Regions from separate parts of the Homo sapiens genome. Here region 1 is linked to region 2. The links come from fine-mapping of genetic effects on gene expression. Tissue or cell type: hypothalamus. Region 2 holds a variant in brackets; the other region holds the start of a gene. All regions are shown on one strand. Distances are from middle to middle.

What was found.
Region 1: GRM5-AS1 starts here. The variant in region 2 is fine-mapped to the expression of GRM5-AS1 in hypothalamus (GTEx, PIP above 0.99).

Annotation. Positions count from the first base shown.
Region 1 is chr11:88,503,251-88,506,184 of GRCh38, forward strand. It overlaps GRM5-AS1 (GRM5 antisense RNA 1), which reads left to right and starts at 1,326. Exons shown (of 6, transcript NR_049724.1): 1 at 1,326-2,934. GRM5 (glutamate metabotropic receptor 5) reads right to left here. Exons shown (of 10, transcript NM_001143831.3): 10 at 1,392-2,934.
Region 2 is chr11:88,530,346-88,533,279 of GRCh38, forward strand. All of the region lies in intron 8 of GRM5 (glutamate metabotropic receptor 5), which reads right to left. Among named protein-coding and RNA genes, the nearest start is that of GRM5-AS1, 27 kb to the left of the region's middle. The variant A/G (reference allele first, on the strand shown) is at 1,794.

The DNA.
Region 1 (2,934 bases), 27 kb before region 2:
AGGAAAAGCATTCTCTCTGTGGTGTTCAATATCAATTTACTAAGTTGTCCTTGATAGACAGTTCCAAGGTTGCATATGAGTTCAAACCTCAATAGGTTTCCTCCAGGATATATGCTTTAAGTTGGACAGGAACTTGTTAAGCTCCACAAATAACATTGATATAACAAATTTAAGCTTCCTGCTGAATATTAACTGTATACTAAATACTACATTGACACTAATAATAGCTACTATTGAGCATTTATCAGGAATGTTGAAATGATAGAAACTTCACAGATTATTGTAACTCACTTCTGCATTTAAAGCAAGAGGAACAAGTTGTAGAGAAATCAGAGTGATTTATCCAAAGTCAGTTGGTGACAGGTAAGAGATCCTGGCTTTTAATTCAATGCTATTTCTATTGCATCCGCTGGTTTTAAATGGCCTTCCATAATTTGATGGAGTCTGATAAGGCTCTTTGGATTTTTAGAAGGTAATTTCCTGTACCTGGTTTGTATATGTCACTTCATCCTCAATTTTATGTGAACATATTACCATTCATATCACGTTAGAATAAAAGATACTGAAGGGAAGAGTCTGACAAAACAGATAAAATGGCTTTCTTTGTTAAGATCAAACACATTCTGTATAATATATGTATCTACATATGTATATATATCATTATGCATTTAATACAATGTCAGAAGCATAAATCAAATATATTTTTAAATATACCTTGTTTTTCTCTTCCATACATCAAGCATCTACCTTATATTCTGCTGTTAGTTTTTCACTAATTTGTGTCCAGGGAATGTATATTTGCTCAAGAATCAGTCAAAGTAAAACTTTTTTTTTTTCTGGAAAAATTATGTAATATGCACATACATCTACACACAAACACACATATACACAGAGACACATGCAGATGGACTCAAAAGTCAAATGTCTATATAAATATGTATGTTTGTAAACACACATCTATACACACACAAATAATCTATTTTATCTGTGTGATGTTACCTCTATCAACACATATAATTATGAAACTATTTCTATAATTTGTATGTCTAGATGCATAAACAATGCATATTTCCTATATATTTTTTTAAGTACTTCTTTATGTAACAGTTGTTTGTAGATGTGTTTGGGGACAACATCTCTGGTTGGTTTGTGGTTGGTTTATATTTTCATTTAAATCTATACAGTCCACTGCTTACTTTGTAAACCCCATAATTCAAATGTATAGATCATCCAGTATTCAAGATTAATTAGTATCATGGCTCTTTTCATCTCAGAAAACACTATTAAGACAACATTCTAAACATTTGAGGGGAATAATCTTAAAATCATATTATAGGTTTTTTAATTTTTTTGAAAAGTAACTGGCTTCACAAACACCAAGTACAACATGATTTAGACAACTGAGAAACAGGCAAGTATATTTTGAAGTGCTAAAATAAAACATATTTATACAAGTACAAAGCAAAACAATGCTGATAAAAATGTTAAACTTTATGAAAAAAAATCATTTGCAGTTCACATCAAAATAATTTAACATTCTCTATTATTTTAATAGTACAAGCTGCCACAACAGAGAAAGAACAGATACACGCACACAATTTTAAAACCAAATCAGTTATAAGTGCAGAAAAAAGTAAGTACAAGCACTTTTAGCCCACACAAATCTTTTAGGATTGGCACCATCTTTCTAAAACATCTATAATCTATATAGATTTCTAATTACAACACCATCAGCAGCTGCCATTGATTTCTAGAAATACACACAATATACATAGTATATTTGTTCACATTGGGAAGATCAGTGAAATTCAACCAACTATTTTATACATGCCTCATTCTTCAATAGACAGTAGAGACTCTCCCAGGCCTCAGACCCTCTTCAAAGTGAATTCTGACTTGTCTTTATGCTTTCACTGATCTGTATTTTTTCACAGTATAAAATTGTAAATGGTAACTATAGAGATTCTGACAGCTTGAGGGTTATTAATAAGCTGTTGCTAAATGTGAACTCACATAATACCTTTGAAGTCTCCAAAACATGTACATTTTACTGGGAGACTAGCATAGGAAATGCTTTTGTTTTTTGTTATTCTTAAAAAGAGCATTTAATTCCTGGCTTGGAAGTCACAGAACTGCAGCAGAGCTATTATACAATTCATTTACAGTCAGAAATAGCTCCTAGTCTTCCTGATCACTTGCTGGTAACAGCAGTAGTTTGGGAAAGATAGTTACTTTCAAGGATTAGCACGTTTGGGGATTTGCTTTTTTTCCTTGCTTCAGTCAAATCTCTTATAATTTTTCTTTCCATACTCCCTTTCTGTTCCCCATCCCTAGCCCAGAAAGACGGTTCTTCCCAATCCAGATATGTTCTTCTTAGGCTGCCCCCACTCCTTTCCCAAAATGGAAGGATGAGTGGACTGCTTAGATTAGTCAGTATAACTTGGTTAAACCACGTCTTCTTCTTTCCATCCTGGGACATATCTCTCATTTAGGGTCACTTTGCTGAGCCTTAGCATATCCCCTTCCTTTTAGTCATGCTGGTCCCGACTGAATTATCACTGGGCACCAGGAACAGATTGTTTTGAAGGAAATTCAATGAGAATGTACCCAAATGAATTGTGAAGTTCATATCCTATAGCCCTAGAATGAATATTCAGTTCTCTTTGTACTGTAGAGTTATTACTTGGAACCTGGTATTAGAATTGGCAAAGAGACAGAGTTAGCATCATTCCAAAATAAAAGATCTCAAGAATGCATTACTAATAATCTTATGTCCAACATACAATGTATTCAATGGAGTGGCAAAAGTTATAGAAATACAGAGAAAAATATATCTTGTCCTTTTCTAATTGGATAAATCATTTTTATTATTACAGTTGATTATGATAGCATGTGGAAGTATCAGATGGCAATTTACTTGCATTAAATTTAATT
Region 2 (2,934 bases):
GGCCAGAAGCTTGGCATGAAAAACTCTCACAATAGATTTAATAAATTTCAGAATGACTTATTCTGAAATAAGTTTTGCTTATCTTCTGTAAAGATTTTTGTTGTTGTTGTTCTTCTTCTTGTACCTTCTTTGTCCAGGAAGTTCTAGCTCTTCTGTACTGAGTTCTACAAGAGCCTATACTCATCTGGTAAATCTAAAAGATGTGCAGGTAAGAATAACTTAGGATCAGATAGTAAATGTAATTTTCCATTATTATTTGGATAAAAAATTTCATTTCTTCACCTCAATTCCTCTTTCCTACCAATATCTACTGAATATTGGATTACTGAAATTTCTATATTGGCTATGTGATTCAGAATACATAAATGAGTGCAGAATGAAGTGAAAGACTAGAAGAAAATAAACAAGTTTAAATAATAAATGTGTATATTAGGTGAAGTAGCAGATAGATGGAGAATTGTGCCTGAAGCTGGCAGAAAAGGAGAGATTTTGATATTGGAAATAATGATGCCTTATGTGAGGCTGATCAAGTTTGAGTAAGTGACCAGGAATAGGAACATTAAAATGTATTAGAACTGGGGGGAAGAAAGAAGCTTGGTACTCATCTGTCCTTTATACAAGCACTAAATTCACTCAGAATGATAGCCGGGCTTGGGATAGACAGAAGTTCTTTATCCAGAAGTTGGCAGTAAACAGTAGTTATAAATGAAGCTAAAAGATAGAGGGATAACTAGATTCCATGAGTCTAAATTCAGTCAGAGCTTTAATTTTCACATTTTTGTATGTAAGGGTGTGATATATGCCTGGAAGCAGCGTTGAGTTGCTGACCTCCATCTCTGTGTCCTGTGAAACACGTGATATGGAAGAATAAGAAACTTTACTTGAGAGAGATATGGCGTAGAAATGTCCTTAGGAGGGAATTGGGTTTCAATTTAAGAAAACAACAGTAAATGGAGTGTTTAGTGAAGCGGTTGAATAAGAAGGGGGGTTTAATCATTAAATAGGAATTATAGACAGGGACTCTATATGGTTTGGAAGGGAAAGGTCAGTGGATGAAGCAAAGAGCAATATATAGAAGTAGAATTTACAAATGTGCTACAACTTATGAGATGCTAGGAAGATTCCATTGATGAATTCTTTCCTCATTTTTCTCTGATACCAAGGAGCAAATGTTCTCCATCCTGTATGAGTGAGGACACTCAAGATGCAAATGCTGTTGTGAGTATCCCATGGCATACTTAGAGACATGTTTTCTCATAGAAATTGCAGACTCTCTGAGAACATATTTGGTTAAAAATGAGTGGAGAAAGAGCCTAAGTTTCCTAGAGAGTTCAAGAATGGAGGGGAAAAAACACAAACACAGCAAATAAGAAAGCTAAAGGCACCAGAGGCACATTTCCCTTACTCCAGTTTTGTCATAGGCTTATCCTGCTCCAGGTTTTGTTCTTTCCAATAGATAAAATTGTCTTAAAAAATAATTTTCTTTCGCCACTTTCTCTCTCACACTGACATCTACTATGGCCCGTAGTCTTCCCCTTGAAGGAGCATTGTGCTAAGCCTTGTGAGCACTTAAACTCGTTTTCCATTCCTAAGCTAGCTGTCATTCAGCTTAGTGAAAACCACAGGGAGATATTTTCTTATATGTGTAGAAACCACAGTATACCTATTTTACTTCATGCTATAATGCTTTAAACTATTCATAGAAAAAAACAGCCTGATTTCTCTAAGAAGTCTGTGAAAGCGAGTTGGAAAATGTTGCATATTTCACATATGTCTTATGTGTAAATTTTAGT[A/G]ACTCAATATGGAATGGACACTAATGAGGCAGGAGGGTAAGTCTGGGGAGTAAGTGGGTAGGAGTGTGTTCTTCAAGGAAACCTCTCATTTAAACCAATATAGATGCATCCCATTTACAAAGCAAATTTAAATTCTCTCTTTCCTCAATTACTTTTTATTATTTAGAATAGAAGTATGGTATGAGCAGAGAAAAACAATATGGGAGGAAAAGAGTCTTTTTGGCCAAGAAAGTGCCAAAAATAGTAAAAGTTATTGAATGAGGGACATTTGAACTATAGTCATATGACAAGTCACTGTGAATGTTACAGAAAATCCTATAAGGGATTTTCATACCAAAATTGCAGTAAAGATGGCAGAGTTTTAGGACTAAGCTTGAGCATAAACATGGAAGTGCAGAGACTTAAAGAAAAATGACCATGTGAATAAACCCTAAACATAGTGCCTCCATTATGTAAGCCCTCAACCAACATTTTCTGAGGGAATACCTCCATGAATAAATGAATAAAATGGAATTGTAACTTTAGGGATGATCAAATCTCCAATGAGATTTGCTGTTGTTATTTGTTTTGTTTTTAATAATAAATACAAACTGAAGACATTCTGTACATGTTGGTCAAGAGATCAAGGAAGATGGAAAATATTAAAGATGTTTACAGAAAGTGGTAACTAATGTACAGAGTTTTGAGATAAAGTAATTGTAGAAAAAAGGAGGAAAGAACAGACTTTTTTGTAATCAGTCAGCATATACTGCAGGCTCCATCTGCAAAACATACCTAAAATCTGACCATTTCTCACCAGTATTTATTACCCTGGCCCAAGCCACCAATACCTGTTAAAATTTTAACAGTTTCTCAAACTGGTTCTGCTTTGTCTGTTACTAAATTTCCCCAACCCAGACCAAACCCATTCCAACCTCCACCCAGCAAGCAGAATATCCTGTCAAAATAGAAATCTTTTCATATCATTCATCTGCTCAAAACGCTGTTAGTTACCCATTTCTCTGAGTAAATTATGAAATTTTTTATCATGGTTTACAAATCCCTACACTTACCTCCCACTCCCTGACTATCTCTCTGATCCCAAAAGTCACTTTTTCTCCCTTGCTCACATTGCTTCATCTACAATGATCTTCTTGTTGCT